Homo sapiens: one gene and its partner. The protein of the gene in region 2 purifies or fractionates together with the protein of the main gene of each other region. This does not show direct contact. Each region holds a gene or a part of one and is shown on either strand. Other genes may lie near its edges. The genes, in order: MIPOL1 and CCDC172.

Evidence for each region.
Region 1: the proteins of CCDC172 (region 2) and MIPOL1 purify together in Homo sapiens (affinity purification with mass spectrometry; 2 studies listed by BioGRID and IntAct, with this or other methods). This does not show direct contact.

The regions. Positions count from the first base shown.
Region 1 is NC_000014.9:37,498,332-37,502,166, reverse strand, and holds part of MIPOL1 (mirror-image polydactyly gene 1 protein), read right to left. Parts: intron 2,260-3,835; coding exon 2,029-2,259; intron 1-2,028.
Region 2 is NC_000010.11:116,358,842-116,362,676, reverse strand, and holds part of CCDC172 (coiled-coil domain-containing protein 172), read right to left. Parts: intron 1-3,835.

The DNA of each region.
Region 1 (3,835 bases), on a different chromosome or scaffold from region 2:
CTGCCCTCAGAGATGGAGTCCATAGAGGCAGTAGGCCTTGCTGAGCTGCGGTGGGCTCCACCCAGTTTGAGCTGCCCAGCCACTCTGTTTACCTTCAAGCCTCAGCAATGGCAGACGCCCCTCCCCCTGCCAGGCTGCAGCCTCACAGGTGGATCTCAGACTGCCATGCTAGCAGTGAGCCATGCTCCATGGGCGTGGGACCCACCAAGCCAGGCATGAGAGAGAATCTCCTGGTCTGCAGGTTGGTAAGACTGTGGGAAAAGCACAGTATTTGGGTGGGAGTGTACCGATTTTCCAGGTACAGTCTGTCACGGCTTCCCTTGGCTAGGAAAAAGAAATCCCCCGACACCTTGTGCTTCCCAGGTGAGGTGACACCCTGCCCTGCTTTGGCTCACCCTCGGTGGGCTGCATGCACTGTCCAACCAGTCCCAACGAGATGAACCAGGTATCTCAGGTGGAAATACAGAAATCACCCATCTTCTGTGTCGATCAACACTGGGAGCTGCAGACTAGAGCTGTTCCTATTTGGTTATCTTGGCCATTCAGTAAAGTTATTTAATTTAAAACATTATCTGAGATGATATTATTTCTACTTCTTGGTGTATAAAAATTGTTTTTTTAAATGAAATGATGATGATAGTTGATGAGATCTAAAAAATAAAAGGTTGATAACACATCCGAAGATTTTTTGAAAATAGAATTGGTCTGTGGGAACCACTGTTTTAGGGAATTTTGGTCATGTATAGAAATTAATGGATTATATATAAAGAAAAATTTGAAATTTGTATGTATTTGTAGACTTTAAGCAAACAGAGCCAAATCAGATCCTGTCAAAAGTTACTGATTGTGATTTATAATGAAATGAGATCTACCTATACATCATAGTGTTCTTAGAATATTAACGTACATTGTGAATAACTGCATATAGTTTCTGACTGAATATAAACCCCATCTTTAAACTTACAAATATATATAATACCTACATAAATCAAAAGTTTCAAGGTACATGGCTAGTAAAGATTAAAATGCACAATTTCTAAACTGTTTTAAAATGGTCTAATTTAAAACTACTGACTTACATAACTTTGGCTATTAATCAAAATATAACTTCAGGGATATTGAGGAAATGGTCAAGATGACATTTTCAAATAAGAAGTAGTGGGAAGTAAGAAACCTTGATGTGAGCACTGCTTCACAGTGTAAAACTGACATAAAAATTGTTAAGGAAAAAGGTATATCTTTGAAATTGAAGGTGACTAGATATGTGAATGCTGTAGTGCTGTTAACAATACATAAAGAAGGTTAAAATATATTCTATTACATGTGTTCTATGTATTCTATTACAGTGGTTCTATTACATTAAAGGTGTCTCAGAAAATTCTGCTACAATGTTCAAGTCCATTAAATTAACAAGTGACTTCTTTGCCTGGTAAGCTGTTTGTTAACATTTTGCTAGCTGTCAAAAGGACTGACAGATTATGCAGCTTTATTTAAATTCTAATAAAAATGCAAAGATCATTCAAAATAAACATATATAATTATGCACTGTGAAAAGCAGTATTGAATACTTCAGAAGAACAACACAAGAAAATTAATTTCACCCTACTGGTTTTTATGCACCTACAAGTCTCAGGTTGCAATGTCACAGATGATCTCAACTCAAGCAGGATTATTGTAAAGCTAAATTAGTTCAGGTGGTAACTTGACTGCCTCTTCCCCTTGCTAATAACTTTGCCTATTAACTTGTGACTGTGAAATGATTTAAATAGTATGGCCTCCATGAACTGATGATCAGTTATTAAATAAAAATGGTTTGCCCTACAGGGTAACAATGGTTCCCAAGAAAATGACTTTTTTGACCCCAAATATGGCATATGGTATCCAATCTAAAAAAGTTCACTGGGTTAATTCTACTTTTGTTCTAAACTATTAACATGATCAATAACTACATATTGTTTAGTTCCCAAAAGAAAGTGTTTTGTTTTGTTTCATGTGTTTGAAGTATTATTACAAGATCATTTAACTTACTTTTGAACTTTTTCATTGGCCACTTGGGAGGCCTCTCTGGCATGTTGAAGTTGTAATTCCATATTTGCTCGCTCTGTCAGAGCTTGTTGCAGTTGAGTAGCCAGTTCCTCATTTTGTTGTTGAGTGATGGAAACAATGTTCTCTCTGTTTTTTAAAGCTTCTTCATATGTACTAAGGGTATAGTTAAACTGATCCTTCAGATTTTCTTCTTGAGATAAAGATTTGTGTAAACTGAGAAAATATTAAAAAAAATTTAAAGATAAGTAATGTAAACTGAGTGATCTATGATCTATTTAACAAAAACCTCCATTTAGAATCTCTAGTTCTAAAAATCAATAAATACTTAAATGAGCAAATGAAAATAATTTTTATGTCACAACATTATAATTGATAATTTCTCTGCTTCTAGGCTGAAAGCTACCCAGACAAATGATTATGCTACCAAAGCATACAAAAAGATGCTGCAAGATGTTAATTTAATTATATCAGTGTAAATATTACATTCAATTTTCTTTAAAAGGAATAGCAGAGAACTGGAAAATAAAGTATCTCTAGGCAAATAAAAGAATGTAATAAGCTGAAAGAAGTGAGAAGAGAATGGGCATTGGTTTAGGAGATCGAGGGTCTATTCTGCCAAGCACTTAATGAGAATGGATGAGGTTTATGCAAACACTGACCAGCCTTCTACATAGCATTTTCTACTTGATCTTCTACTTGTCACAGTTGAGATATAAATGAATTTAAAATCACTAGTCAGATTGCACAGAAATAAAATGTATTCATATATACATGTGTATATTTTTTTTTGGCTAATGAATCTCTTAACGAATACATCTACTCATTAAGTCATACAGAGAAATAGCATATAAATTAAGACTAAATGAATGCAGAAGAAAATGCAGACAAATAGAATCCTAAAATGCTAAAGGTCAAATCTTTGATATGTCATTACACCTACCACCTGAGGTTATTTTGAAATGGCACCAAGCACCTCACTCAATTAAATAAAGACATTTTGAAAATATAAATATTTAATAAGAGAAATTTAAACTCCACACAGGAGATGTTCTTTTTTATTAAATATCATTTCAGTATATGCATACAAAGGAAATGTCGATTGGAGACATTTGAAGTAAAACAACTTAACTATATAATATAGATTGATAATGGGAAGGAAAGCAATATCATTATTAAACCTGCAAAAAGCTAGTTAGTGAACTTTGGCATTGTCCTAATATCTAGCCTGATACTTTCTTTAAAACTGTTCAAAGTAATTATAAATTTCCTCTTTTAGTTTAAGTTATCTATAAGCCTTTACAGTATGCTTATTTTGGAGAAGGCGTCCCATAGAACTAGGATGGATATGAAACAAGGACAGTCAGCATACCAAATGAAACCACTTCAGGATTCAAACCCCTAAGAATACGGACTGTTACTAAGCGCTGGTCAACTGGTTACTACACAGAAAATTAGAATAGTGTGTAGTGCCACATTTGTAGAGTGCAAAAAATACCTTTTTTCATGGTTTGCACATTGTTATTAATCTAACTATCCCTACTTCATTTCTTCTCAGATTTTTCTACCAACCCATATGCTTAAAGGCTGTCTCTTGCCCATTTTACTATTTTTTCTGTGTCCTCTCACTTTCTGCATTCTTGTCTGTTCCAAGTTCCAATTTTCTTCAGCTCACCCTCTTTATCTCCATGAAAGATGCAAGAAAGAAAGAAAGAAAAGAAGAAACAAACTAAAAGCTAAACCTTAAAAAAGGTACTTGTTTATGTTCTTTATATTTAAAACATTAGTTATA
Region 2 (3,835 bases):
TGACTAATATTTTGAGGACACTGTAGAACTGAGATCTTGTTACTCTTGTCTACTTTGAGCTTCTCTGTTGTTGAAAACAAAGAGCAAAGATAATGTAGACTATTTTATAAATGGAACCTGGGTAACAATTCATATTACTCTACGAAATGCTGCTTATTCTAAATAATGTTACAGAAAGACTCTTGCAAGTATTTAAGGATACATTTATAAAAGTGTGTCTAATTATGAATATTTAGAAACTATCTTGTACATCCATTAATGAGAGACTGGTTATATAAATATGGCATCTCCATATAATAGCATGAAAAAGAATGAAGATTAGTACAAACTAAAATGAAAACATCTACATTTTGATAAATAATTAAGCAAACTGCAGACCAGTGTGATTCATAATCCCATTTTTGCTAAACACACACAGACATACCTATGTACATGTGTGTACACACACAAACAGAAATAAATTCTGACAGTATACACATCAAACTTTTAACAGTAGTCACACTTGGGGTGTCAGAGCAAGGGTATGAAAAGCGATCTCGGCTCACTGCAAGCTCTGCCTCTCAGGTTCACACCATTCTCCTGCCTCAGCCTCCCGAGTAGCTGAGGCTACAGGTGCCTGCCACCACGCCCGGCTAGTTTTTTTTGTATTTTTAGTAGAGACGGGGTTTCACCATGTTAGCCAGGATGGTCTCAATCTCCTGACCTCGTGATCTGCCCCCGTTGGCCTCCCAAAGTGTTAGGATTACAGGCATGAGCCACCACACCTGGCCCGCCTGTTCTCATAATAAAAAATATATACATGTGAAAATATACATATTTATTTATGTATCCTTGAAAGAGTTTGAAAACATGTTAATACCATATTGAGTTTATGCCTTCTTACAAGTCTAAGGACCAACAGTGTGACCTCTATGACCAACTTAACTAGATGACTTTTTCACTGAAGAGGTCACAGCACTGCTTTACTACATGACATTAATGCATTTAGAGTCTCTCGTAGCAGGTGTATATTAACTTTTGTGCAGCTTACATTGCAAATATGCTCTTCACAAACCATACTACCTTTTTTTCTTTTCATTTCTTTTTGTTCTTATTGCCCTGTCTTGTGGTGATGAAACAAAGCCACACCATCTTTAAGTGCTCAGAATGAAAATCTCATGCTGTTGCCTATGCAGATTTATTCCTAAAACAATCTTCCTATTGCATTAAACAAGCACAAATATCAGTAATACAAGATGTACAACCATTCTAGAAGGAAGTTTTGTGGTGAAAGAAAATTCCTGAAATGTTTAAAATTGTCTGTTATGTTATAATTTGGAGTAAATAAAAAAAATCATGATCAAGAACTGTGCATTTTGGTAAACCTCGTGTTGGGTAATAACAAAAAATAATAGGTTTGTGCAGTGGCTCACGCCTGTAATCTTAACACTTTGGGAGACTGAGGCAGGTGTATCACTTGGGGTCAGGAGTTCGAGATCAGTCTGGCCAACGTGGTGAAACCGTGTCTCTACTAAAAATACAAAAATTAGTCAGGCGTGGCGGTGCATGCCTGTAATCCCTTGCTCTGGGATACAGAGCAAGACTTTGTCTCAAATAATAATAATAATAATAATAATAATAATAATAATAATAATAATAATAATAGGTTTGGGGGTTTACAGAGGCCCAATATATAATACTCTTCTTTCCTGCCTGAAATCTGCCCAATCAAAAAATAAGAAAGGCAGAAGGCAAGCATAAATGTCACATTTATTACTGATATAGCAGATACTGGAGAATGTGGCTTAAATCTGTAGGCAAGGGTTTGCTAATATCAAACCCCAGTATTAGACTAACTTAACTCACACCATTAAAGGTAGCAGTGGACCCCACAGGCTTTCTCTTGTGGAGTCCAGCAATGATAAAACTTAAGAGATGGAGAAGCAGAGTGGGAAAACACGCTCTCTGAGGCAGGCAATGTTCCAAAGAGACAGGGAAAAGAAAGGGGCTGGGCTCCACATTTCCCAGTTTGCCTTTCCAGATTCACCGATCAGACTGTGTCACTCCTCTCCACATTAGGATAAGGGAATGAGGGACTAAGGGGAGGTCAGCATGATTAAACTTGTAAAGCTTTTTCCACATCGAAGAAAAAGATAGGAATGAAAATAATCCATTCCAAAGTGGCACTTTCCCAGTGGTTAGAATACATAATGTCTTTGCAAATAACACTGAAAATATATGAAGATGAACTTTAATCTTTTCGTAGTGAAAATTCAATTATATGTAGACTCAATTACGGGAACAAATATTTATTGAACACTATGTGCCCTGGACTGTGCAAGATGCAAAGAGTGAAAGAAAGATGAACCATAAGTGGGGGGAGAGCTGGGTTTCAAAAGGGTTTAACCACTATGCTTACTGCCTCTTAAGACTCTGATCTTTATTATTTCTGTTCTCCCTACACTATATGAAAAAACCAGATCAGTCATAATTACATACCTCTTTGGGAGGTTTCTGATAAATTAACCTAACCTATGGTTTAAGTGTAAATCATAGCAATATTCTATAAGTCAGCTGCTTAAATGTGTGTTAGTTACACACTTACTCTTCAAAACAGAATGTTTAAATAAACAAACATCTTGATATTTATAAATAGAGACAGATTATTTAAAGCAGAGACTATTATCATTCTGAATGTGAACCATTAAACCATTGTGAATGCAAACTTTACCTAAAGCAGAGACCACTAAACTGTGAAACACTGGTTCTCTACAGTAATGGATAACATCAAGATAGATTCCAACAAATAACCTGAACATGGCATATTAAGCTTTAAAACATGAACCATAATCGTTATAAAAGAATTTCAATATAGACAAAATAAAGCATGTATTAAAGTTGTCTAATTACTAAAACTAGAAACAGTAAGCTCATAGAAATGAATTAATATTAAAGATTTCCTCTGTAATTGCTTTCTTACTGGTTAAAGTTAATGAATGTAGAAGTCATAATAACCTTAAAATAAAGCTGGTTCTCAACTTGGGGGGACTTTGCAACCCCCTTCCCCAGCGGACATTTTGCAATGTCTGGAGACATTTTTGGTTGCCACAACCGGTGAATGCAGGGTGCTACTGCATCTAGTGGGTAGAGGACAGGGTTACTACTAAACATCTCACAATGCATTGAACAGCCCCCGACAACAAAGAATAATCTGGTCTAAAATGTCAACAAGGCCAAGTTTGAGAAATCCTGCTATAAAAATAACATCTACTCCATTAAGAAGTCAAACCCGACAAATTAAGAGAAATGCAACTATTATGGAATTCCATATACATTTGAACACAGAGATGAAAAAGACTATTCTATCCCAAAATTCAATAACAACATCAACTTAATTTTGGCCTTCATGATGAAGCTGAATCAATGTCTTATTGTTTTTTGACATCATTAGCTTCTTGTTATTGCATTAATTGTAAGACTGATAGTCCTCTTTCCTAAAATCTTTATACTCAGTACTTTGACTTCACTCTTCACACCTGGGAAAACTTATGAAACATGCTAATTGGGAAACTAAGTACACATATCAATGAATGAAAAAGTAGGAATTGATAAATATTGGCATTTAATTTAATAACTGCTAAAATGCAATGAATGGACTAAATATATGCACTGGTATTTCTTTCTATCCAAATTTCCTAAGTCATCATTTGTGAAGGAAAAAGCATTCTCTAACAGACTTTGTGTGTTTAATTTTAACCCAGAGCACATTTTTATGACTGAGTGATAAACCTACAAAACTGGAGTTCAGATTGGAAGCCCTCACACTACTAACTCTAATGACACCAGTGGGCATCAC